Linked DNA regions of Homo sapiens: region 1 is linked to region 2. A link means that fine-mapping ties the variant in region 2 to the expression of a gene that starts in the linked region. Tissue or cell type: vagina. Region 2 holds a variant in brackets; the other region holds the start of a gene. All regions are shown on one strand. Distances are between the middles of the regions.

Evidence for each region. PIP is the estimated chance that this variant, and not a neighbour inherited with it, causes the effect.
Region 1: ZNF582-DT starts here. The variant in region 2 is fine-mapped to the expression of ZNF582-DT in vagina (GTEx, PIP 0.92).

Annotation. Positions count from the first base shown.
Region 1 is chr19:56,390,121-56,398,225 of GRCh38, reverse strand. It overlaps ZNF582-DT (ZNF582 divergent transcript), which reads right to left and starts at 4,550. Exons shown (of 2, transcript NR_037160.1): 1 at 4,173-4,550; 2 at 1-345. It overlaps ZNF582 (zinc finger protein 582), which reads left to right and starts at 4,692. Exons shown (of 5, transcript NM_001320371.4): 1 at 4,692-5,006; 2 at 6,394-6,482; 3 at 7,725-7,851. The coding sequence starts at 6,474.
Region 2 is chr19:57,137,160-57,145,264 of GRCh38, reverse strand. It overlaps ZIM3 (zinc finger imprinted 3), which reads left to right and starts at 63. Exons shown (of 5, transcript NM_052882.1): 1 at 63-406; 2 at 2,580-2,636; 3 at 6,667-6,793. The coding sequence starts at 2,622. The variant A/G (reference allele first, on the strand shown) is at 4,547.

The sequences.
Region 1 (8,105 bases), 750 kb after region 2:
GGTCCAACCAATCTTTGGGGCCTACGTAAATCAGACACCACCTCCTGAAGCCAGTCTATAAACCCCGTGCCCTTCGCCACGGACTGGAAGTCCTACTTGGGAGCCCTTTTCTCTCTGCAGGAGCTAGAGCTATTCTCTTTTCTCTTTCGCCTATTAAACCTCCGCTCTTAAACTCACTTCTTGTGTGTCCACGTCCTTGATTCCCTTGGCGTGAGACAACGAACCTCAGGTATTTACCCCAGACAATGATGCAGCTTCACCATCATTTTGCAAGGCTGAAGCAAGACGATCACTTGAGCTCCGGAGTTCAAGACCAGCCTGGGCAATACAGTGAGGCTCCCATCTCTACAGAAAAAAAAAAAGAAAAGAAAAATTAGCTGGTGTGGTGGTACGCACCTGTGTTCTCAGCTACTTGGGAGGCTGAGGTAGGAGGATCGCTTAAGCCCAGGAAGTTGAGGCTGCAGTAAGCCGTTTGTGCCACTGTGGCAAGCCAGATCTCACAAAAACTGAACAGGCAGGCCTCCATAAGAACTGTTCTAGCATTGACTAAATGGTTAGGTTAAATATTAAAGGCTGAGAGAGCCAGCGCCCTAACACAAAGGCTGATGATTTGAAGCATGACAAAATAATGAAGGAATGGTCACACTCCTCATACCAGGATCCATTTAGGATTAAACAAGTTTTATTGGGGGTCTAAAGGAACTCTCCAGACCTCCATAACTTAGTAGGAGACAAGATAAGGTAATTACCTTTGGCACTTGGACCCATCTAGAGTAAGTAAAATCACTGAGGCTCCAGAGGAATGTCCCCAAGGTCTATAACTCAGACCTTAGTTATAGATTAGAAGAAATTAATCACTTGTGTCTTTAGATGAATGCACACTAACATGTAGACATATAGCTTAGAAGGTAGATAAGCACTGGAAAACTTTGTAATTTTGAGTTGGTCTGGCAATATTTTTCTGGCCCTCTCCCTGTACCCGGTTACAGAAATAAAACTCTCTTCTTTCACAGTTCATCAGCATCTTGTTATAGGGCTGCGAGAATAAGCAGCCTGACCTTCAGTTCAGTCCAGGAACACCACTGCACACCAGCTTGGGTGACAGAGTGAGACCTTGTCTCTTAAAAAAAAAAGTCCTCAGAGAGAGGCCACATGTATTTTGTCCTCAGTTGTCACAAGGAAGATGCAATACATTTATTTTTCTCCTGGATTAGTACTGCAGAAAAGCCTTTTATCCTTTTTCTTTTTTGGCTATGGATGTCCAGTTGCTCCAGCACTGTTTGTTGAAAAGGTTATACTTCCTCCGTGGAAATTTATTATTATTATAATGCACAGATTTTAGGTCAGAAAAATTGGGGGAGGTGCCCAAGGTCACTCAGGGAGTAAGTAGCTAAGATTGGGTTAGAACCCACTTTGTTGTGTGATTCCTTGCTTGGATTACTATGCACAACAGAATATGGCCCACCTCCCCACAGTTGATCTCATTCAAGTGATAATGGGTGATCCTGAAACAGAAGGAATCTGGCAGAAGCACGGATATGGCTGGGGATAACAGGAGAGGGAGCTGCTGGAGTAACTCTGTGGGCGGCAAGCCACCCAGGTGCCAAGGCAAGAGACCGAGGACACGAGCTGTTCCAGTATAATAAAATATAAAACAAGAATAGTTATACCAGATATAGATCTTAGATATGATTATATATGAATATCATTAATCATTAGTTGGTAGCAATTACTCTTTATTCCAAATTATAATAATCCTCACTCTATAATCATAACCTGGGAAAAGCCAGGCCATATAGAGATAGGAGCTGAGGAGACATAGTGAGAAGTGACCAGAAGACAAGAGTGCGAGCCTTCTGTTATGCCCAGACAGGGCCACCAGAGGGCTCCTTGGTCTAGCGGTGATGCCAGCATCTGGGAAGATGCCCGTTGCCAAGCGGACCGTGGTCTAGCAGTAGTGTTAGTGTCAAGGAAAAACACCTGCTACGTAGCGGACCGGGAAAGGGAGTCTCCCTTTCCCCGGGGGAGTTTAGAGAAGACTCTACTCCTCCACCACTTGTGGAGGGCCTCAGGCCCACCTGCAGTTATCCGGAGGCCTAACCGTCTCCCTGTGATGCTGTGCTTCAGTGGTCACGCTCCTAGTCCACCTTCATGTTCCATCCTGTACACCTGGCTCTGCCGTTTAGTTAGCAGTAGCAAACCAGTGAAAGTACTAAGTCTCTAATAAGTAGAAATAATGGTGTAAGCTCTCTCTCTCTTTCTCCTCTCTCTCTCTGCCTCGGCTGCCAGGCAGGAAAGGGCCCCCTGTCCAGTGGACATGTGACCCATGTGGCCTTACCTATCATTGGAGATGGCTCACACTCCTTATCCTGCCCCTTTGTCTTGTATCCAATAAATATCAGCGCAGCCTGGCATTCGGGGCCACTACCAGTCTCCGCGTCTTGGTGGTAGTGGTCCCCTGGGCCCAGCTGTCTTTTCTTTTATCTCTGTCTTGCGTCTTTATTTCTACAATCTCTCGTCTCCGCACACGGGGAGAAACCAACCGACCCTGTGGGGCTGGACCCTACAAACTCTGCATGTGCTTTGGCACAGGAATGTGTACTGGGAAGTGGCTGACAAAAGACCTATGGATTCCATGGAATGGAGAGGCTAGCTCAGAGCATTCTCATACTCTTAAAAGGAAGAAACTGGAAGCCACCCTCTAAGACGACCCTGAATGATCCCTGCCTCCTAGTACTTATACTCTTGTGTAGCCTCCACCTACTTAGACTCACAGCTGATTTTGTGACCAAGAGTATAATGGTGTATGACTTCAGAGGCTTGGTTCAGAGTCAGAAGTGGCCATTTCATCATCCTCTAAATTTCTCTTTGGCAGATTAATGAATGTGAGAAAGTAAAAATGGTATAGAAGAAAGTTAGCCTGAGAGATGGCTGGCTTTGTACCTGTTTGGTCTTTTTCCTTCCTTTCCTCCATAAGCAAATACTGACGCATGTACATATAGACACACTCAACACAGTGGGATGTTAAAGGGAAACTAGAGCCACTCGCCCCTTCCCAAGATCAGAGAACATAGGAAAGATGATGACTTTTTGCATCTACCCTCTCCTCTTGAACTCGCAACACTGTCTTGAACCACAAATAAGGTCAAGTAGGATAAATCTACAACTGTCTCCTCAACTGTCCGCTCACAAGTGTGAAATTCAACCATCCTTGCTGAAGTTGTCTTTTAATATCAGTAATCAGCAATAACCAACCTCTGAGCTTTGCTTATATTATTAAATCATTTTATTTGACCCTCAGGACAAAGCTGCAAGCCCAGCATTACATTCTTCCTTTTATGGACAAAAAAAAAAAAACAAAACAAAACCGAGATAGGCACGAAGAAACTAATAAATGGCTGAAATGCTATTTGAATCCACATCTGTCTAATTCTAAAAGTGTGCTTTCCACCACATCACCGCACCTACAAGGAAAATGCAGCCTCTACCCTCTCCTGAAGAATGTGTAAAGAGGCAATATGGTGTGTTTTGGAAAAAGCATCTTTGCAGAAAGAAAGCATTAGCTTCAGTCATATTAGCATCCTTATCCAGCAGCAGTAGCATTATTTTACATATCAGTTACTCCTCCCCAACAACTCAATGAATTAGATGCCACAATCATCCTCACTTTCAAATGTGGAGACCGAGGCACATCTCTAAGACTGGAGTTCAGGCATTCTGGCTCCAGTCTTAGAGATGGTTAAGGGTTCACACTCTTAACCATTTATTACACCATAGAGCTCACCAGGTTTGAGGGAAACAGGATCAAATCAAAAGAGTCACTCAGGACTCCAGTCCTCACTCAAGGACAAACTGTTCCACCTCGGACAGGGAGAGTTTCCGCATTCTGAGACCCAGCATAACAGGTCCTGACCGGCATCTGGCACTCGGACTCCCAATCATACTGGATCACACTGGCTCGGGATGTGTAAAGTCCAGGGCTTCTCACATTTGATGACACCAAAGCCGCCTAAAAACAAGAGAGAATTAACAACTACCTACGGCGGTCTGATATTTGCCCAAGAGATGCCGCCCCATAAAACTCCTTTACATCTTTATAACGTTTTTATTTTGCGTTCTCCTTCATAACCCACATTTAACTCACCATAGATGTAATGTTTAAAATTAGTTACCAGATAAACTCTTACGCTTCCAAACTTTAAGGTTCCTTCGAAACCTTCTGGTAAAACTGTTGTTCCACGGAAATGGGAACGTAACGGATGAGGCAATCTTCCACAGCCGCACACAGTTGTGTATCCACCGCTAAACGGTCCCAGTCATACATTCAACGACCCACGCGGAGTCAGAAGCTACCACCACACACTGTCAAAATCACGCACACACAGTGACGGCCCCTTGCCCACTCGGTCACTCGCCCACAATCTCTCGCTAGAGAATCACACGCAGATAGCACACCCAGCACCACAGACCCCAGGAAGCAACCCAGGGACTCGAACACACGAACAGCACTCCTCCGCGCACTGCGCAGGCACGCCTGCGTCCGGCTCACCCTGAAACATCGCGAGATCCGGCTTCAAGGCCGGGCTGCTGCCTTTACGCCTAAAGACTATGTTTCCCGGAAGACACTGCGGCGCCGGCCCTATCATGGCGCAGCATCGGTGTGCTTTGTGCGTCTGCGCCATCTTCCGGCTGCGCACGGCGAATCCACCGGTACCGTGGTGGAAGCGCGCCCTGGGCTGCCGGGGGCGCGGCCGCGGTGGCACTTGGACCCGAGGAGGCGGCAGGTGAGAGGTTCCGGAGCTTTCCAGGCGCTCTGGGGTCCAGCAGGAGCTGGTGCCCGGGCCGGTTGGGTCTCAGGCCTGAGAAGAACGCAGACGTCTCGCCTCATCGTCGCTCTGTGGCTTTACCGGCGTGAGACTACATTTCCCGCCGGCCCTCGCGGCGTGCGCTTTCTGGCGCCCCCTTTCTGCTTCCAGCCTCATAGCCCAGGTGCATGGACCCCTTAGGTGGGTGCGCAGGGGTCTCCGACCCCCTGAAATTGCGGATGTTTTGCATTCACTGTTATGCGTGCCTTTTTTTTTTTTTAATCTGAGAGGAAATCTTGTTTCATGAGGTTCTCAGAGAGTTACAAGACCCCAGAAGACTTAGAACCGCTAGTTTAGAAAAACTTATACTTGGGAACATTTTATATGTTCAAATTCTATGTCCAGCAATGGGGAAACACTTGAGTGGATCACAGGCCATCCTTTGTAAATAGGATATCGTGCAGTTAATACAAATAATGCTTATAAAAGTGGTCATAATAAGGAAAAGCTGCCTATTACATCATATTAAGCAACATTCATAATTATTTCACTTACACGTTACTTAGAACCAAATGTTTGTAATGCAGTAGGCACCTTATATACTCCTTTACAGAGTACTTCTTGTTTAACAGTGAGCTCAAGAACTGGTTAAATGACAACACTGCGAATACTTGGGTGTTTTTTCTTCCAATTTTTTTGTTTTGTTTTGTTTTTAGCCTGTGTGTTAGTGAGTTTGACTTCTTTTTGCTGAATGTTCTCAAAGGATTCAGTAGTTAATATCTTTGCTTGTCAGTTTTTGATAGTCATTTTTGATAGTCACTTGGCATCCCATTATATGGCTGTGCCAAAAATGATTCAACCTCTTGGCTACTTGTGGACTTGCCTACTTACGTACTAATTTTCAGTTCTCCTATTTAGCAAATATTATTGGACATGCAGCTTTGTGCACTGCTGTGTCTCTATGGAAGGACACATTTATGTGCTGATAATGGAGCACTGGGCGTGCTGTGTGTAATTTGTCTCTTACTGTTCCTTCCAACTCTATCCCATTTGTTGATGCAAGGCATGCTCCATGAAGTGGCATGCACAAAGCCTCAGTTTGGGCTGTAGAGCTTTTTGTATATTTGGCGGTTGGGAAAAGAGCCAGGTAGACTTTCAAAGGTGTTATATTTGCTGCAGGAGAGAGTTAAATGGCCTAGTCCTGGAAAGGCTTTATTCTAGGCTGGGGCTATGCAAATGATGCAGGCCTTCTATGCTCCCTGGCTTGAGGGAAGCCCTCCTTGTCCTTGAGGTAACATGTGGGTCTCAGTCACTAGAACAGCCCTCAGCATCCCTGTCTTAGACTTGCATTTGCAGCAAAACAGAACCACTGGATGTTTAGGGGAAATGGGAGGGAAAGGACCACTGGTTCCCCTTTGCCTTGCAGCAGCTAAAGCTGGTTTCCTGGGGTTGGGTGAGGATCCCTTTGCCTCCCCCTCCTTCTCATTTTCTTGGTGGGCAGAGGGCAAGCAGGTGGGGACTTGTAACTTGGCATTCTAGGAACTGTGAGGCAAGCCTAGCCTCTCATGTTTGCTCTTTCCTCCCCCAGCTCTACCGTCGCAGGACTCTGCCCTTCCCCAAGAGAGGAACCAGAAGGAGGACCTATCAGCCCTTGAAATTCTAAAAGTCATGTCCCTTGTGAGTTTTTAAATCCCATAAATATTTGCTTTCCTTATCTTGAAACTTTCCACCTGGGTTCCATCCAGAAATTTGGTTCTCAGACTTTCCCATTTTAGGGAATAAAAGGACCAGGCAGGAGTCTCCTCTCCCATTGTCCTCTCCCCTCTGACAAATGCCCACAGATTTATTCTCTATAGCATTCTGCATCTCCTGATGGTTTTCGTCTGCTAGGAGGAGAAACTCATTTCCCTGTATGAAATGAGAGCATCCTTTGTAAGAACTGAAGTTTGAAGAGATGGAATGAATGCTTAGGAGCAATCACATATAGAAAAGCAGGGGAGGTGGTGTTGGTTGGTTTCAGTTTCAGCGCATGGTACAGTGTCCTGCTTTGGGAATGATTAATGATTGGATATGTAATTGAGGTTTGGCTGGGAATCCATCAAAAATTTGATGCCAGAATTAAAGTCTAGTTTGACGTTGGACAGAGCATTTGAATCTGGGACATCCTCCATTAGTTTCTTTAGCTTAAGAGGAAGAAAAGTACAGAGCTGAGGATGGTGAGCGATGTAGCAAGTGAGATGATCATCTAGGTGGGTGAGTGGTCAGGGCTTGGAAAAGCCTTAGAGATCTGATCCAACCTCGGGATCCAAAATAAGAGGATGTTTGAGTCAGTTGTTTCACTTGATAGAAAATTGTGCACTCAATAAAAGTTATCTCCATGGTTTTTCCCATGAAGAAAAATGCTTGTGTTATGTTCCAACATAATGATGAACTTTCATCTCCAAGAAATTCTTGACTTACATGAAAATCCTGTATCTAAGATAGAAAACATGTTTCCATAATTTTAAAAAATAAAATATTTGGGGAAAATCCATCAGAAATATTTTTTGTTGTTATTGTTATTCCAAAAGATAGAAGTGATAGGTCTCACCTTGAGAATTTATTGTATGCCAAGTATAGAGTGGGCAGTGTGCTTTATTACACTGTTTCTTAACAATAAGGAAAACTCCATTTAGCTTGATTTTAATTTTCATCCCAGACCTGTACACAGAGCATTGATTTGCAGTTAAAAGGAATGTTTGAGAACAATTTGATCATTCTGTTTTACTCATCCCCATTTCTTCTGTCACCTTTCACATTCAGTCCCACCCTTCTTGTTCAACAAAACAACCCCCCCTCCCGCAAAGACCTGCCCCATCTCCTTTCATCCCACTGTGAACCATTGAAATACATATATATCATACATGCCTGTCATTCCAGGGGTCAGAATTGTTCAGGGATGTGGCCATAGTCTTCTCCCAAGAAGAATGGCAGTGGTTGGCACCTGCTCAGAGGGATTTGTACAGAGACGTGATGTTGGAGACCTACAGCAACCTGGTCTCACTGGGTAAGGTGATCTCGTCTGTTAGTTTGGAGGTTATCCTTGGGCATGTTCCTTCCTGGTCAGTTTTTGGGTGCTTTTCAGTCTTATGATTGGTTGGTCATTTTTGAGGGGTTAAAGGGCGGCGCTGTCGGCTGAAGCTGCATCCCCCTACCCCCAGGCAACTGTCCCATCTTCCTCTGGCACTTCCTGCAACTGCCTCTCCTGCTTGATGACCAGGTCCTGGATCTGAATTCTGGGGCCCCCACACCATAACCAGG
Region 2 (8,105 bases):
TTCCATGCTTTCTATTTCAAAGTTAAGGTAAAAAATTTTTACTTGCATGAACTTAAAAAAAATTCCATTGGAAACTGATTGGGCAGATTTGAAAATTAAGCTTTCACAATCACAATTTTTATGAGAGTTCATTCAGTTTTGGAGAAGTCGAGGAAAGAATTGGGAATTGAAATTTTGATGTGGCCTGATAGGATCAGGTGGGGCTTTTGATAGGAAGTGAGTGTTTTGGGTTGTTTCTTGACTGGATTATGATGCGGAATACAGCGGGTAGAGGGCCGATTAAGTTTTAGTCATTAGTGTAGCTTTTCAGTATACACGCCTTTTCATTTTCAGTCCCTTTCAGAAGAAAAGACCACAGGCATCAGAAATCAATCAACTTGCTAATTTATGCCAGATTCCACTGGAGGTAAGCTGATTTTTTTTTCTCCCTGAAAACCAAATGTCTGGGTTTTGTTTGTTTGTTTGTTTTGCATTTTTACTTAGTTTCATTTTTCTACCTCTCCTATTTGCTGGAATAAGCTAAATATTTTACATTGGTAGTTTAGATTTTTTTTTTAGTTGTCATATTGAAAAGTGATGCTCCCAGGACACTCAAAATTATTTTCGTGGCCCTCCAGTCCTTAGCATTACTGCTGGCCCACAGCTACTTCTAAAAACTTTTTATTGACAAATAATAATTGTGTTTATTTATGGGGTACAATGTGATGTTTTGATACATGTTTACATTGGGGGGATGATTAAATCAAGCTAATTAATCTATTTTTGTGGTGAAAGCATTTACAATTTACTGTTTTTTAAAATTATATATATTTTTTGTGCTAGAATTGGACTCCTCAAACTTTAATAAACATTAAAGTTGTGCCCGGCAAGTTTATTCTTTTTAAAAACATATTTACTTATTTAAAACTTTATTCCTGGCTGGTGTGGTGGCTCATGCATGTAATCCCAGGATTTGGGGAGGCTGAGGGAGGAGGATTGCTTGAGCCTAGGAGTTTGAGACCAGTTTAGGTGACATAGCAAGATCCCTTCTTTACAAAAAATAAAAAGTTAGCTGATGTGGTAGCATGCACCCATAGTCTTAACTATTCAGGAGGCCAAGGTAGGAGGATTGCTTGAGCCAGGGATTTTTAAACTGCTGTGAGCCGGGATCACATCACTGCACTCCAGCCTGGGTGACAGAATGAGACCCTGCCTCAATAAAATAAAATAAAAAATAAAAACTTTATTACTTAAACATTGAGACAGAGGTTTCACTATGTTGCACAGGCTGGTCTCAAACTCCTGGGCTTGGCTGGATGTGGTGGTTCACGCCTATAATCCCAGCACTTTGGGAGGCTGAGGCCGGCGGATCACTTGAGATCAGCAGCTCGAGACCAGCCTGAACAACATGGTAAAACCTTGTCTCTACTAAAAATGCAAAAATTAGCTGGGCATGGTGGTGCATGCCTGTAATCCCAGCTACACGGGAGGCTGAGGCAGGGGAATCCCTTGAACCCGGGAGGCAGAGGTTGCAGTGAGCCGAGACTGTGCCACTGCACTCCAGCCTGGGCGACAGAGCAAGACTTGGTCTTAAAAAAAAAAAAAAAAAAGTAACTCCTGGGCTCAACTGATCCTCCCACCTTGGCTTTCCAAAGTGCTGGGATTATAGGTGTGAGCTGCCACGCGTGGCCAAAATCTACGCTTTTGGCAAAGAATTACCAATGATCCAGCTGTCCCGCTTATGGCAAAGCTGAAGGGCTATCTGCATCCCATGTTCACTGCGGCGTTATTCGTCACGACCACAGCTGCTTCAGGATTCATGGTTTCTGCTCTCGGCCTTCCTTACTGTGCTCTAGCTGATCTGATGCTTGCCTCATTGTCTTTGCACAGGCTTGTTTTAAAGGTGCTGTTGAACTGCTGTTTAGCTTTCTCTCTCTCTCTTTTTTTTTTTTTTTGGGACGGAGTCTCGCTCTGTCGCCCAGGCTGGAGTGCGGTGGCGCGATCTCGGCTCACTGCAAGCTCCGCCTCCCGGGTTCCCGCCATTCTCCTGCCTCAGCCTCCCGAGTAGCTGGGACTACAGGCGCCCGCCACCACGCCTGGCTAATTTTGTTTTTGTATTTTTAGTAGAGACAGGGTTTCACCGTGTTGGCCAGGATGGTCTTGATCTCCTGACCTCGTGATCCGCCTGCCTCGGCCTCCCAAAGTGCTGGCATTACAGGCATGAGTCACCGCGCCCAGCCAATTTTGTATTTTTAGTAGAGACGGGGTTTCACCATGTTGGACAGGCTGGTCTCGAACTCCTGACCTCTGGTGATCTGCCTGCTTCAGCCTCCCAAAGTGCTGGGATTACAGGCGTGAGCCACCGTGCCTGGCTTGCACTTTCTTCTTTGAGACCCAGTCTCAATAAATAAACAAACACAAAAAAACCAAAACAAAAAAAAAAAAGACCTTCAGAAGGGGATCACTGAGGTACAAGTCAGGGCTTTTCTGAGTGGGTTAGGGAGAGCTTTTATCCAGGGTGTGGAGCATTCTATGCTGGATGATCCCCAACTTCCAAAGCGAATTCTGCTATTTCATGGTTCTTTTCCATTTTCCCTCAGATCTGCCTTCCCAAGACTTTACTGACTGGTGAAGAACAGGAAATGAACAATTCCCAGGTGAGCTTTTCAAAAAAATCTAAATCTCATAATGAATAAACGTATGACCCACGTTCCTCTTGCTCAGAATTAACTGTGCTAACCTTTTGGCATATTTTCCTCCTTCCTTCCATACTTCTATTAAAAGGTAACACACACTCTACTTTCTGCTTTCCTATTAAAGCTGAAACATTTCAAGTAAAGCTCAAGGCTGGGCATGGTGGCTCACACCTGTAATTCAGCAATCTAGGAGGCCAAGGCAGGCGGATCGCTTGAGTTCAGGAGTTTGAAACCAGCCTGGGCAACATGGCGAGATCCCGTCTCTACAAAAAATTAGCTGGGTGTGGTGGTGGTGGCGTACACCTGTAGTCTCAGCTACTCTGGAGGCGGAGGTGGGAGAATCGCTTGAACCTGGGAGGTTGAGGCTGCAGTGAGCCATGATTGTGCCACTGCACTCCAGCCTGGGTGACAGAGCATGACCCTGTCTCAAAAAAAAAAAAAAAAAAAGCTTGGTTACGGAAACACCAGGAGTTTGGTCTAGGTCCTGCTACTGGCTGCACAGAAAGCCAATGACTGAGACAATGGGTATTGCCAAGGAAGAAGCTTTAATCAGCTGCCGTAGGTGAAGAAATGGGAGCTCAGCCTCAAATCCATCTCCCTAACTCACTAAAACTAGGGGTTTATACAGCATGGAAGAAATATAACAATGTGTAAGAAAGCAAGACTAGGGAGGGGGCAAGGAGACATCTGTTGTGGTGAGTTTCAGTTGTGGTGAGTTTCAGTTGATTTTTTTTTTTTGAGGGAGTCTCGCTGTGTCACCCAGGCTGGAGTATAGTGGTGCAATCTCAGCTCACTGCAACCTCTGCCTCCCAGGTTCAAGCGATTCTCCTTCCTCAGCCTCCTGAGTTGCTGGGATTACAGGTGTGCGCACCACCACTCCTGGCTAATTTTTGTATTTTTTGGTAGAGACGGGGCTTCACCATGTTGGCCAGGCTGGCCTCGAAATCTTGACCTCAGGTGATCTGCCTGCCTTTGAGAGATCTGAAGGTCTTTTCCTGAGGAAGGAACTCAGACAAAACAAATACAGGTTTCAAGCTTTAACAGCGGAAGGGTCAATTTCTATGTTTATCCAAAAAACAAAAACAAAAACAAAAACAAAAAACAAAAAACCCACAACTGTCTATGGGATTACTGGGCTGGTTTCAGCTCAAGCATCTTTGTTTTGTTGTTTTTTTTTTTTTTTTTTTTTTTGAGACAGTCTCCCTCTGCCACCCAGGCTGGAGTGCAATGGCTTGATCTTGGCTCACTGCAACCTCCACCTCCCAGGTTCAAGCGATTCTCCTGCCTCAACCTCCTGAGCAGCTGGGATTACAGGCGCACGCCACCACGCCCACGCCCGGCTAATTTTTGTATTTTTAGTAGAGATGGGGTTTTACCATATTGGTCGGGCTGGTCTCGAACTCCTGACCTCAGGTGATCCACCCGCCTCAGCCTCCCAAAGTTCTGGGATTACAAGGGTGAGCCACCACGCCCAGCCTCAAGCATCTTTTGACCATTGCTCTTACAAACCTGGTCCACTGCTAAGCCCTGAGATGTAACAGTGTCATGTGTGTTTCACCCCAACCTATTTTTTAAATGATTGGTGTCTTGAATGTGTGTCCTCTCCCAACTTTGTTCGGTGTGTATTTGAAACAAATTCTGTAAATCCACACAATAAACTGAAAAATCATTAACTAGTACCAGTCGGAATCAAAGTAAATTATGGATAGCTGAAAGACCAAGGATAAGTTGTATGCAGTTAGGCAGATAGTAGTTTCTTTGCAATTGTTAAAATTAAGCCTGTTGACCAATTTCCTGTTGACAGGAAAGGCATACTAAGGCTGGGTGTGGTGGCTCACACCTGTAATCCCAGCACTTTGGGAGGCGAAGGC[A/G]GGAAGACCACTTGAGGCCAGGAGTTCAAGACCAGCCTGGACAATATAGTGAGACCCTGTCTACAAATAATAAAAAATGAGCTTAGCATGGTGGTGCATGCCTGTAGTCCCAGCTATTCTGGAGGCTGAGGTAGGAGGATTGCTTGATCCTGGGAGGTTGAGGCTGCAGTGAGCCATGATCATGCCACTGTACTCCAGCCTGGGTGGCAGAGCAAGAACCTGTGTCAAAAATTTAAAAAAAAAGGCCGGGTGCGGTGGCTCATCCCTTTAATCCCAGCTCTTCGGGAGGCCGATGCGGGCAGATCACTTGAGGTCAGGAGTTTGAGACCAACCTGGCCAACATGGTGAAACCCGTCTCTACTAAAAGTACAAAAATTAGCCAGGTGTCGTGGTGCGCGCCTGTAATCCCAGCTGCTCAGGAGGCTGAGGCAGGAGAATCGCTTGAACCCAGGAGGTGGAGGTTGCAGTGAGCCGAGATTGTGCCACTGCACTCCAGCCTGGGCTACCAGAGTGAGCCTCTGTCCCCTTCCCCGCCAAAAAAAATTAATAAATAAACAAAATTTTAAAAAAGCGAGCTAGAGCACAAACACAACTAAAAAATTTATCTGTCCAAGAGGACACTAGGTGCTGGCTCTTAGAGGTGAGATTTTCAGTTTCTGACAAAGGAATTCGCTTTACAAGTGTGACTTCCAACACTGTGAGTGTTGAGTGGCAGGGGCAAAATGCTGCCGTAAGTCCAGTATGGCTGCAGGAGAGACCCAGGGGAGTGCTGTGTGACCCTGTGTGAGTGGGAGTGTGGTAGACATGCCAGACGCTGGCCCCTGTAACAGGTGTCACCTGTTTCTCCCAAATGCAAGGAAAGCTGATAAATTAGGGGAGCGCACCATCCAGTCTGAATGTCGACTGTGGAAAATAGATTACAGTCAGTTTAGATGTAGCTGGAAGAATTAGGGGGCTATTGGCTTATTCTACTTATTTATGTATTTATTTATTTGAGATGGAGTCTCACTGTCACCCAGGCTGGAGTGCAGTGGTGTGATCTCAGCTCACTGCAACCTCCACCTCCCAGGGTTCAAGCGATTCTCCTGCCTCAGCCTCCTGAGTAGCTGGGATTACAGGCGCGCACCACGACACCTGGCTAATTTTTGTATTTTTAGTAGAGATGGGGTTTCACCATGTTGACGAGGCTGGTCTCGAACTCCTGACCCCGGGTGATCCACCTGTCTCAGCCTCCTGAAGTGCTGGGATTATAGGTGTGAGCCACCATGCCAGGCCTCTATTTAAAAAAGAATTTCTAATAGAGGCAGGATGTCTTAAAGAAAAATGGAAAATAGAAAAAAAATATAATAACATTTTCTTTTCTTTTCTTTTTCTTTTTCTTTTTTTTCTTGAGACAGAGTTTTGCTCTTGTTGCCCTGGCTGGAGTGCAGTGGCGCAATCTTGGCTCACTGCAGCCTCCACCTCCTGGGTTCAAGTGATTCTCCTGCCTCAGCCTCCTGAGTAGCTGGGATTACAGGCGCCTGCCACCATGCCTGGCTAATTTTTTGTATTTTTAGTAGAGATGGGGTTTCTTCATGTTGGCCAGACTGGTCTCGAACTCCTGACCTCAGGTGATCCACCCGCCTCGGCCTCCCAAAGTGCAGGGATTACAGGTGTGAGCCACCGTGCCCGGCCAAAATAATAAAATGTTCTTTGAGATAGGGGTTTTGCTATGTTCCCCAGCTAGCCTCAAACTCCTGGCCTCAAGCAATCCTCCTGCCTCGGCCTCCCAAAATGTTGGGATGATAGGTGTGAGCCACCATACTCGGCCTCTGCCTTACTCTAAGTAAAAGATGACAAGGTGGATTTATGAATGGTGGAGAAGATGGAAACTAATGGCTGGGTTTGAGATTCAGGAAGTAAAATTGGTGGGACTAGAGGGTGGAGAAAGATGGCAGTGTCATGAGTAGGTCTAAGGTTTATGGCTCATTGGCAAGATCCTCTGGGCACAATTTATTTTCATCCAGAGTAGAGTGAATTATGGACATGATTAAAGCTTGGTTCAGCAGAAACAAGTTTCTGTATCCTCAGCCGCAGGATTCAATGGCATTTTTATACTGATCGGGAATCTGTTGTTACAGGGAAGAGTGACCTTCGAGGATGTCACTGTGAACTTCACCCAGGGGGAGTGGCAGCGGCTGAATCCCGAACAGAGAAACTTGTACAGGGATGTGATGCTGGAGAATTACAGCAACCTTGTCTCTGTGGGTAAGGACGGCTTCCCGGGCAGGGGGACTCAAAACCTAAGGCGTGAAACACACAGACACCCCATGGCTGGCCAAATAGGGTTGGCACAGAGGTGCTCCTCACTTCGCATATGTTTTTGTAGAGCCGGGACTAGGGTGAGGCAAGTGAAGTGTACCAAGTGCTGTATTGAAGGAGCCCCCATTCTCAGGGTCGGCAAGTGCCGGGAGAATGAGTGAGGGCCTCTGTAAGTTTTGTGGGCTGGGTGCCCTGCCCTTCACCCTACTCCTGGTCTTGATTTTTGGAAAAGCTTTATCCTCCAAGAAGAAAAAGCATTTCTTTCTTTCCCTTCCTTCCCTCCCTCCCTCCCTCCCTCCCTCCCTGCCTCCTTCCCTTCCTCCCTTCCTACCTCCCTTCTTTCCTTCCTTCCTTCCTTCCTTCTTTCCTTCCTTCCTTCCTTCTTTCCTTCCTTCTTTCCTTCCTTCCTTCCTTCTTTCCTTCCTTCCTTCCTTCTTTCCTTCCTTCTTTCCTTCCTTCCTTCCTTCTTTCCTTCCTTCCTTCCTTCCTTCCTTCTTTCCTTCCTTCCTTCCTTCTTTCCTTCCTTCTTTCCTTCCTTCCTTCCTTCTTTCCTTCCTTCCTTCCTTCCTTCCTTCCTTTCTCCCTCCCTCCCTCTCTCCATTCCTCTCTCTTTCTTTATCTCCTTTCTCCTAACAGGGTCTGGCTGTGTCACCGAGGCTGGAGTGCAGTGGTGCAATCATAGCTCACTGTAGTATTTTTTTTTTTTGGAGACAGTCTCGCTCTGTCACCCAGGCTGGAGTGCAGTGGTGTGATCTCGGCTCACTGCAACCTCCGCCTCCCAGGTTCCAGTGATTTTCCTGCCTTAGCCTCCCGAGTAGCTGGGATTACAGACGTGCACCACCATGCCTGGCTAATTTTTGTATTTTTTGCACAGATGGGGTTTCTCCATGTTGGTGAGGCTAGTCTTGAACTCCTGACCTCAGATAACCGGCCCGCCTCAGCCTCCCAAAGTTCTGGTATTACAGGCATGAACCACCACGCCTGGCGTCACTGCAACATTGACCTGGGCTCAAGCCATCCTCCCACCTCAGCCTCCTGAATAGCTGGGACCACAGACGTGCACCACCACACGTGGCTTTGGTTTTGTAGAGACTGGGTCTTGCTATCTTCATGTTACATGTAACATGTTGGTCTCAAATTCCTGTGCTCTAGCAATTCTCCTATCTCGGCCTCCCAAAGTGCTGGGATTACAGGCATGAGCCGCCACACCCAGCCCAGAAAAAGCATTCTTTGTTTAGTTCGACTGCTCAGGTGCATT